Regions from separate parts of the Homo sapiens genome. Here region 1 is linked to region 2. Evidence: fine-mapped expression QTL. A gene starts in region 2. The other region holds a variant in brackets. All regions are shown on one strand. Distances are between the middles of the regions. Region 1 holds the start of IL2RA-AS1 (IL2RA antisense RNA 1). Region 2 holds the start of IL15RA (interleukin 15 receptor subunit alpha).

Region 1 (5,000 bases), 59 kb before region 2:
CCCTAACTTGCCTTCAACTCCTCTACTGCCTTGTAAATGTCCCATGTGTGCTTGAAAAAAGAGTGGGCTCTGCTATTGTTGGAATCAAATTTGTTAATTGTGGTTATCACATTTGATTGTTCTTACTGATTTTCTGTCTGTCCTATCCATCATAAAGGAAGACACTGTTAAAATTTCTCATTATGATAGTAGATTTCTAAATTTATCCTTGTTTTGTCAATATTTGCTTTGTGTATTTTGAAGTTATGTTATTGGGTGCATAGAAGTACGTAAGTGTTATGTTTTCCTGATTCTTGATTTGTATATTTTGAAGTGATGTTTTTGAGTGCATACACATATAGCATTTTTATGTTTTCCTGGTGAATTGAATCTTTAGCAATACGTACTGACTTCTGTATTTCTATTAATGCTTCTGCCTTGAAGTCTGATGTTAATATAACTCCTTGGATTCAATTGTCCATTCTTTTAGTTTCAAACTTTTGGAGCATTTATGCTTTAAGCATGTCTCTTATAAACATCATATAACTGCATATTTTTAAAAATATATGCAGTCCAACATTCTGTAACTGCAGGGTTAATCTATCCACATTGATAATTATTACTGATATAGTTTGATGAATTTCCACTGTCTTATTTTGTTCTTTATTTTTTACCTTCTCTTTCTATGCATTTCCCCCTTCTTTTGATTTAAGTAAGTTTTTATCCTATTTTATTTTCTTCCAATAGCTTGTAAGTTATTCACTTTACTCTGTCATTTTAGATGTAATTTTTAACATCTTAACATGAATCCAGACTTTACAAAGCCTAGATTTAACCAATATCATAGCCTTCCTCTCAAATAATAAATAACCTTAGAACAAATTGCCTCCACAAACCTTTTCTACACAGTTCCCTCCTCTTCCTCCTTGCTTCTTTGTGCGCATTTATGTTTGCTATTTGAAAGAATTTCCTGAAAGTAAAAGTGAGATTTTTTAGAAGGCTGACATGAGGGCAGCAATAGTAGACTTTCACGTGACTCCTGTCCCACCACCTTGAGCTGTGTGGTTTAGCCAACTTACTTAATCTCTCTGAACCTCAATCTCTTGCTTTCTAAAGTGGGGATGACAGTATCTACCTTCCAGAGCCATGGTGAGCATTGAAGGTAATATATGCAAAGAAGCAGCACATAGGCAGGGCTCAGACATCATAGTTATTATTATATAGATAACCCCAAATGGAGGGCCTGGGCCCTCTGACTTCTTCAAAGATAATAATCTGAACTAAACCACAACATCACACAAACACCTCCCAGCACCCAGATAGTTTAGACATAGCTCCACCTCTTTGTAAGAGATAACCTTCAACAGATAGGTGAAAAGCACGCTCCTTCCTGAAGATTATGATTCTGGGTGTTGGAAAAGCACTGAACTAGGAGTCAGGGAACCTGGTGATCTGTTGTAATCCAAGGCTTGCCACAAACTTGTGGAATGACCACAGGCCCAGTGTTCTTATCTATAAAATGTAGAGGTTGGCCTAAATGATCTTTGAGCTCTCTTCTAGTTCTCATATTCTATGATACCATTAAAAGGGATGTTCTACATCCCTTTTGCACCCAAACCACTTACTTTCTATACGGCCTAAACTTCTGGTTTGGGTTTCCCAAGGAAGCGAGAGACAACCTTCAATATTAGGCATATCTTTGGAGTTCTTATTAAACAGTAAACCTCACCTCACTATCAAAGATAGCCTCTGGCTCCAGCGTCCTCTTTCCAGTCTCCCACAGAGATTTCCTCTGGGAGTCAACGAGCTTAAGGTGAAATTTGGCTAGGGGTCTGGGAGGAATTCTTTTCATTTCATATTACAGACAGAGCATTTGAAATGAGAAGGGGCCACAGGGGGGCAGTGAGCGGAACAAGAGGAAGATTCGGGTCTCTGACACCCAGAATCTATCTGATTCTGACACAGAAGATGAACCGCGTTAGAGCAAGAACCAGATCCCTCTTTACCCAGTGGCCCAAGCTCTTGATGCGTACCTGTGTCCCTTGTAAAGCTCAGTGAAATCATCACCTAGACATTTCCTGTGCTCCGTGCGTTATTCTAATCTTCACTGGGTACAAGTAGAGCTTAAAGTTCTGATATATGGACAGGAAAGAGAAGAGGGATGAAGCCTTTATCCAGGGCTGGCTGGGCTAAGAGTAAAACAACTTCACCTGGATTCACCCAAGGGGCAAAGAATCTTATCTCAGACTCGGTCCACATCTTTATCAGCCCCCTTTTCCCTTTATCTTTCATGTTGCTCACATGGGCTCCAGGGGCCAGATGAGTTTTCTCTTACTTTGAACATCAGAGAAAAAAAATAACGACAAAAAGTTACTCAACCGACAAACGTTTCTCACCCACACACCTTTCCTCCAGTCAATGACGTTTCCACTGCACCCTGTTAGACGCTGAGTGAGGAAGCATCTGGGCACAAACCGCTGTGGATGCAGATTGAGCAGCACTCACTGTGCACTGGAGGGATGGGAGTCCTGTCCTCACCCAGGGGGCAGATGGAGAGGGGGCAGAGAGAGCAGCCGGGGCTTCACTCCCTGGAAACTCTCATACTCCAAGTGCGGCCTGGGGCTCTGCAGCCCCAGCATCATGTAGGAGCTTGTTAGAAATAGCCTCAATGTCCACACCTGCCCTGACAAATCCCAGTCTGCAAGATCCCGGGGGCTCTGCACACACGCTGCTGCGAACAACCTCAGCATCCGTCCTGCCGGCTCTAGAGCAGCCAACCGGGATATCCTTCTTCTTCAGCAGTGGTGTCCGCTCTCTAAAATGACTGTCCCCCACATCTCTTTCCAGGGTTGGTATTTCTGGTTAACTCAAGGGACACAAAAATAGCTCAGGGAAAAATTAATTTTCATTCTACTCCAATTCTAATAATGAAGTGGTAAAAATTAAAGGGACAGCTTTCAGATTATGGGAGTGCAGCTGCGGGTATGTGGCAAAATCGAAGAAAGAGGGCTCATAATTCCACGTCAGGGAAGAGC[C/T]GCTGGCCTGCCCAGGCTGCTGTTTATCTTTACTGTGAATGGGGCCTCTTTTTTGTTTGTTTGTTTTGTTTTGTTTTCACTTAACCTCAGTGGCAAGAAAAATGGGGCCTCTTGCCAGGAGGAGCAGAGAGTGACGCGGAAGGCAAAGACCACCTCATTTCACCAAGTTCCTCGTCTTTTATTTGAAATCCAAGACATAGAAGCTGCACATTTGTCCTTCTGGGAAGAGTGACGAGTGACTGAGAGTGGAGTCGAACACTCGAAAGGAGAGAGCAGGTGCCTGGGAGTCAGAAAAGCTGGCTTGAATTCCTAAATCTGTCGCCGTTTGTCCTGGGTGAGGTCATTCTGGTCATCTGTGGCAGGAGGACTACAAATGCCTGGCTTTTCCCTTTCTAGCGGGCACACAAAGAGACAGAGAAGTTGAATCTTTAGCAATCCATTGAAGGGGAAACCCCACAATGCAAAGAGAAGCATTGTCGAGGGCCCTTCACCTGCACCCTCTGTTCTCCCAGACCTGTTCCATGATGCATTCCAGAGGAGGTGGCTCTCCGTCACTGTCACTTGCGATTGCCAAGGCGTCAGCCAGACAAGGCAAAAGCTCCCAAGGGATGTTACCCTTCAGCTGCATACAGAACTCCTAGAGGCAACAAATCCACAAGGAAAGATACACCCATGATCGTGTATTTCAGCCACAATGATGGAGGTGAGGTGGAAAAGGACGAGGAACAAGTGGGATTCTGCCCATGTCTGTCTAATGAGCATCCACAGCAAACTCCAACGGAAGATGTGAAACACGCTCAACACTAGAAGAACTCGGTTTGACTCTGTCTTGGTGTGGGTCCCAGGCCAAAGCCCTCGGCATTTTCAGGATTAATGATCACTGCTGGCTGTCTCTTTTTCCCTCTGCCCACATAAAAGGCACAAAAACTAAAGAGGAAGGCCACATCACCGCAGAGCCCGTGGTTCAGGATTCTCCTCCTGGGAGCCCCGATTTCTTTTCTTTTCTCACCTTAACAGTGTCCAGAGTACTTTTATTGCCAGAATAGAGATATAGCCTGCTCAGAGCCTCATGTGCGGCCCACCACTCAGGAACAAAGGGAGAGACAGATACTAAGCATGTGTGCAACAGAGAAAATCCAGCCCACGAAACCGTGTGCAAGAGCAGCTCCGTCCTGCCTGAATGTGGCTTTGGGAAGCCCACCTAGAACTTGGCCTGGCGCCAGTCACCCACTCAGAGCCTACTGCCATGAAGGCAGGCCCTCACTCTCCATCCCTGCCCACACAGGGAGACCCAGGGCAAACAGAAAGTCCCCTAGCGGGGGCCCAAGGAACCCCTGGCTCTCTCAGGGTCCCATTCAAGTTTCTGGGCTAGTCTTGCAGACTAAATACCACTCAGTTGCCTGGTGGGAGTAGGTGCTGGGCAGGGTGGACAGGAGCCCCACTGCTTCTCAGCCCTGTGCCAACCCCTTTGTGTGAGACCCTAGTGCAGGGTGGGGAGCCCCAATTTCTAAGCCTTGAGTGTTTACCACCCTACACCCCCACCTCCAACTCCCGAATTGATCATCTCAAATTTTCCCACAGTCCATAGGCACCAGACACTTCAAATAATCTCAGAAAAGAAGGTGATGTCTACATCCAGAATCGTGCCAATACTTTAAAATTACAGGGAGAAAAATATTCCCCTTCCCCTCTTCTAAGGAAAATTCTGTCTGCCTCCCAAGCTCCCAGGTCCCTTGGTGTGAGCTGGGGGAGTGCGTAGAGCTAGGAATTGGAAAATATTCCGGGAGAGAATGATTTATGTTGAGAAGACCCATTGGGAGAAGCAGGAAGTGGGTCTGGAAAGACAGGAGGAAGTGTAAAGGCAGAGAAAAGCCCTTGTTAGCTGAATTTTGAGAAGTAATTTTTGGCATTGTTAGTGAGTAAAACTAGAGAATGAGGACAGTTGTATGCTGTCTTAAAAAATAAAAGAATGATAATATAGGGAAA
Region 2 (5,422 bases):
GCTGGGAGAGTCTTTTTTCCCCTTGGGGATGCTGAATAAACAGTGTGTTATGTGCCTGTGTTTTGATTGCCACCCACCCCACGAGATCAGGTGTGGAATTTTCCACTTGTGGCGTAATGTCAGAGCTCAAAAAGTTTTGGATTTTGGACCATTTTGGATTTGGGATTTGGAGATCAGGGGTGCTCAATCTGTATGGTACTGTTCATATGAATTTTTTTTTTTTTTTTTTGAGACCGAGTCTCTTTCTGTCGCCCAGGCTAGAGTGCAGTGGTGTGATCTCAGCTCACTGCATCCTCCACCTCCCAGGTTCAAGCGATTCTCATGCCTCAGCCTCCCAAGTAGATGAGATTACAGGTGCGTGCCACCACACCCTGCTAATTTTTGTATTTTTAGTAGAGATGGGGTTTCACCATGTAGGCCAGGCTGGTCTCGAACTCCTGACCTCAAGTGATCTGCCCACCTCAGCCTCCCAAAGTGCTGGGATTACAGTCATGAGCCACCACACCCAGCCTTAATCACATGAATTTTTAAAAATGTAAGCCATCCTGTCCGTTGCACATGGACATACACATGGAAAAGGGGCCTAAGAATGCCTGGGAATGATGAGTACCAGTTTCAAGAAACATTTACCTGCGAGAAAGTGGAAGACGGAGGAAGAGAAAGATGCAAGAATACAAAGGGGCTTCAACTTTATCTGTAATTTTTTTATTCCAAAAAATATCTGAAGCAAACATTGAGCAGACATATTAAGTTTTGACAGGATGAGGCAGTAGGCTCATGGATATCCACTATATTTATTGATTGCTATAGTTCGAAGTATATTTGAAATTTACATTATTTAACAACGTATATATATGTAATGAAATAGAGTTCTTTAAGCATACCAAATTTACAATTTTATTTTCAAATTTTAAAATTTACTTTTGGTCAGAATGCAGTAAAATGGGTACTTTAACACAATCAATGCTAGTTAGAAGGTATATTGATACAAGACTTTTGGAAAGCAAGATAGAAATATTTGTTTAAAAGAGAAAAAGCCTTTAAAAATATTCCCTACCAGTTGACTCAATAGTTCCACTGTAGGAAATCTATTCTAAGCGATCTTAAATTCACAAGATTTTGTAGAAAGACATTTATGACAATGTTATCTTTAATATTAAAATAATAGAGGGGATGTTAAACTATGATAATTTGCAGCCATTAAAAACTTTTACAAAGAGTCTGTAATAATGGAGAAATCTCTACTTCATAAATGTCCATAGAATAAAAAATGCTCTATTGTATACATGCTATGCTTAGCCTGCATTCAATAAACCCTCAATATATTTGAGAATATTAAGGAATATTGTTAATTTTTAAATTTGATCTTATCATCTTGAGATTTATTATTAAGTATTGAGAGAAATTGAATAATGTGGGATTTCCCCAGTTGGAGTAAGGGTGGCTATTCCTGCTTAGAAAAAAAGAATGGACCTTGTGTGGTCACTGCCGGATGGTAGGTTCATTATTCTTTCTACTTTTTTTTTTTAAATTTAAGAGACAGGAACTGGCTGTGTTGCCCAGGCTGGAGTGCAGTGGTGCGATCTCAGCTCACTGCAACCTCAGCCTCCTGGGTTCAAGTGATTCTCCTGCCTCAGCCTCCTGAATAGCTGGGATTACAGGCGCCCGCCACCATGCCCAGCTAATTTTGGTATTTTTAGTAGAGATGGGGTTTCACCATGTTGGCCAGGCTAGTCTCGAATTCCTGACTTCAGGCGATCCACCTGCCTTGGCCTCCGAAAGTGCTTGGATTTCAGGAGTGGCCACCGCGCTCGGCCCTAAATTCTTTTATTTAACTTTTAAGTTCAGGGTTATAAGTGCAGGTTTGTTATAAAGGTAAACCTGTGTCTTGGGGGATTATTGTACAGATTATTTCGTTTTCAAAGAGAATTTGCAAGTATGTCACAAAAGCCTCATAAACACGTTGTGAGATTTTAAGAGGCAATGACCGAGGCTTGGAGATGTCTCGTCCTGTCCAATGTCACCGCTAGACCTGAGAATCTGCACTTGGGAGCTTACAGACCCGGTTCTCAGGCTTCACTTGAGACCCCAAGAAAGAAAAAAACCCACCAGCCAAAGAGGAGGATGGCAGCCTGGAAGAACCTAAGGAAGCGAGGCTCAGAGGTGAAGCACTGTGGCTCCTCTCCCCCTTCTCCCCCCTCCGCCCCCTCTCCTTCTAAGATGAGGCATTTTCTAGGGGAGCAAAGCTGCAGCAGGAATTCGGCGAAGTGGCGGAGCTGGGGCCCCAGCGGGCGCCGGGGGCCGCGGGAGCCAGCAGGTGGCGGGGGCTGCGCTCCGCCCGGGCCAGAGCGCACCAGGCAGGTGCCCGCGCCTCCGCACCGCGGCGACACCTCCGCGGGCACTCACCCAGGCCGGCCGCTCACAACCGAGCGCAGGGCCGCGGAGGGAGACCAGGAAAGCCGAAGGCGGAGCAGCTGGAGGCGACCAGCGCCGGGCGAGGTCAAGTGGATCCGAGCCGCAGAGAGGGCTGGAGAGAGTCTGCTCTCCGATGACTTTGCCCACTCTCTTCGCAGTGGGGACACCGGACCGAGTGCACACTGGAGGTCCCAGAGCACGACGAGCGCGGAGGACCGGGAGGCTCCCGGGCTTGCGTGGGTAAGGTCCTGGGTCCCCACCGGGCACGGCCCATGCGTCCCGGGGACAGGGGTGGCTGTGCGGTGCCGCGGCGGCCGGCGGGGCTCCTTCCCCAGCAGGGGTGGGGACGCTGAGTCACGGATCTGTCACCGCTTTGCACCTCTCCGAGCCCTCGGGGGCCAAAGCAAAAGCGAAAGCGAATGCGACTGGCGGGGCGGCAGGTCCCAGAGCAGCGCTCGCCACCTCCCCCCGGCCTGGGCAGCGCTCGCCCGGGGAGTCCAGCGGTGTCCTGTGGAGCTGCCGCCATGGCCCCGCGGCGGGCGCGCGGCTGCCGGACCCTCGGTCTCCCGGCGCTGCTACTGCTGCTGCTGCTCCGGCCGCCGGCGACGCGGGGTAGGGAGCTGGGAGCAGGGGCGCCCGGGCGGGACTTGGAAGGGGGCCGGGACGTGGAGCTGGAGGGAACCGGGCGCCCCATCTCCCCGGGCCGTGCGGGGGCGTCGGTGCCCTCGGGAGCGCGGTGCGCGCAGGCCCAGGCCGGGGAGGGGACGCGGCGCCGGGCAGGAGGGACACGTGCCGGGAGCCGGGGTCGCAGGGAGAGCGCCGCCGCTGCGCCCGGGTCACCCACGTAAGGGAGCGGGCGGCCTGGCTGGGGTCTCCGAGGCCGAGGTCAGGAGCAGTTCTGAGAAGCCCGTTTTGGCCACGGGAGCGCGGAGCCGGCGGCGTCCAGCAGTTTGGAGACACGGGCGAGTGCGCTTCTCCCAGGCGCCTGGACTGCAGGGCGGGTGTTGCATAGCACGCGGTCCTCGGAGGGGTCCGGGAGAAACTACTCCTCCCGACTCCCAGGCAAAAGTAAATTATGTCAGTGGGAGCTGGGAGGGTGGGGAGGAGCTGTGTCCCAGGGGGAAACGCGTCGGGCAAGTTGCACACCTGGGGACCTGGAAACAACTTCCAATTCTTAAGCGATCAGGAAACCAGCAGAGGCGGTCGGGACCGGATGGGGGTGGGGAGTGGGGGCCAGCCTGGAGTCTACACTCGCAGAAAAAGGGGGAAGAGATCTGTGATCGCTTGGTGTATTCGAGAAGAAAGCGGGTCGCGGAGCTCTGATCTCGGCAGGGAGGACGGAATGAGCGATTCCTAGGGGTTTTGTCCCGGCAGCCAGAGGAAGGAGGAAAACAGTAGCAGGGTCTAGCTCTATCCTTGTCAGCGCTTCTTTATCTTTTTATAGTCAGGGAGCTCTTGGAGGGTCTGATGAAAGCTATGAACCCCCGGCCCCCAGAAAAATGCATGAATGAACATAGTTACAAAATGTGCATATGATTTTGGGGTCAAAGCCCCACTGAAGGCCATCCATGGACTCTCTATAGGAATTAGTAACGCCATGATCTGTGTGTGTTTTTAAGCGAGACCCTGAATAATTTACATCCAGTCGGGCCAGTCTGCCCAGGCCCTGGCCAAAGCCATTCCACGCACAGTTGCTGCTGCCTGGTGTGGCCTGAACGCCCCCCCACCCTCTGCCACCCCCACCCCAGCTCTGCGAGGCTTCTTGAAGTTTCGTTTTCATGAGACTCTGATGCTTGGATTTCCCCCCACATCTGAGAAGCAGAGTTAGTTGGTGACCGGTTGGTTCCTCCCAGTTGGCTAGCAGTGTCACAGGACCCCATAGCTGGCAACTGGGGCAGCTGGATTACACAATATGAAAGTGAAATGCAGCCTTAGTCAAAGCCCAGCAGAGAGGAGGTGTCTTCCTTGAAGACTGAGTGGATAGGGGAGCACCACTGTGAGATCTCTGATCTCATCAGCTGCACAGCCTTGCCCTTTGACCTTAGAAAGATGTTGCTACCTTCCCTTCCCAAAGCTCTCAATGTTTTTTCTTTTTCTTTTTCTTTCTTTCTTGTTTTCTTTTTTGAGACGGAGTCTCACTCTGTCACCCCGGCTGGGGTGCAGTAGCGCGATCTCAGCTCACTGCAACCTCCGCCTCCTGGGTTCAAGCGATTCTGCTGCCTCAGCCTCCTGAGTAGCTGGGATTACAGGCGATCGCCACCACGCCCAGTAACTTTTGTGTTTTTAATAGAGACGGGGTTTCATCATGTTGGTCAGGCTGATCCAACATGGTGATCACTCCTGACCTTGTGATCTGCCCGCCTCGGCCTTCCAAAGTGCTGGGATTACAGGCGTGAGCCAGCTTGCCCAGCCGTTGTTTTTTTTCCCTTTAACAGCCTTATTGAGGTATAATTGACCGACAATAAACTGCATATATTGAAGTTGCACACTTTGATAAGTTTGGAGGTAAATGCATACATACTCATGAAACCACTGCCACCACCAAGAGTGAACACAACTATCACTCCCAAAGACTTCCTCATGCCCTGCACAGTCCTCATCTCCCACCTCGCCCATCTCCCAGGCAATTTGATGCACTTTCTAAAATTTTTTATAAATAGAATTACACGGTAGGAACTCTTTCTTGTTTGGCTTTTTTCACAGACAGTAATTATCCTGAGAATTTATCCATGTTGTAATTTGTATAAGTAGTTCATTAGTTTCTACCATTGAGTAGTAGTATTCTACCCATGGCTAGCCCATCATTTGTTTAGCCATTCACTTGTTAAGGGACATTTGGGTTGTTTCCAGTTTGGGACTATTACAAAGAAAGCTGCTATGAACACTGACATACAGGTTTCTGTATGGACACATGTTTTCATTTCTCATGGGTAGAGAATGGTTGGGAGTAGAGTGGCTGTGTTATATGGCAGGTGTATGTTTAATTTTTTTTTTTTTGAAACAATGT

Evidence for each region. PIP is the estimated chance that this variant, and not a neighbour inherited with it, causes the effect.
Region 1: its variant is the best candidate, but not a certain one, in a credible set for the expression of IL15RA in tibial nerve (GTEx, PIP 0.53).

Annotation. Positions count from the first base shown.
Region 1 is chr10:6,034,591-6,039,590 of GRCh38, reverse strand. All of the region lies in intron 1 of IL2RA (interleukin 2 receptor subunit alpha), which reads left to right. It overlaps IL2RA-AS1 (IL2RA antisense RNA 1), which reads right to left and starts at 4,181. Exons shown (of 2, transcript XR_001747349.2): 1 at 3,529-4,181; 2 at 3,169-3,406. RefSeq lists a silencer at 1,027-1,086. The variant C/T (reference allele first, on the strand shown) is at 3,015.
Region 2 is chr10:5,975,010-5,980,431 of GRCh38, reverse strand. IL15RA (interleukin 15 receptor subunit alpha) reads left to right here and starts at 2,889. Exons shown (of 7, transcript NM_002189.4): 1 at 2,889-3,027. The coding sequence starts at 2,940. RefSeq lists silencers at 2,126-2,795, 2,886-3,265 and enhancers at 4,156-4,235, 4,366-4,635.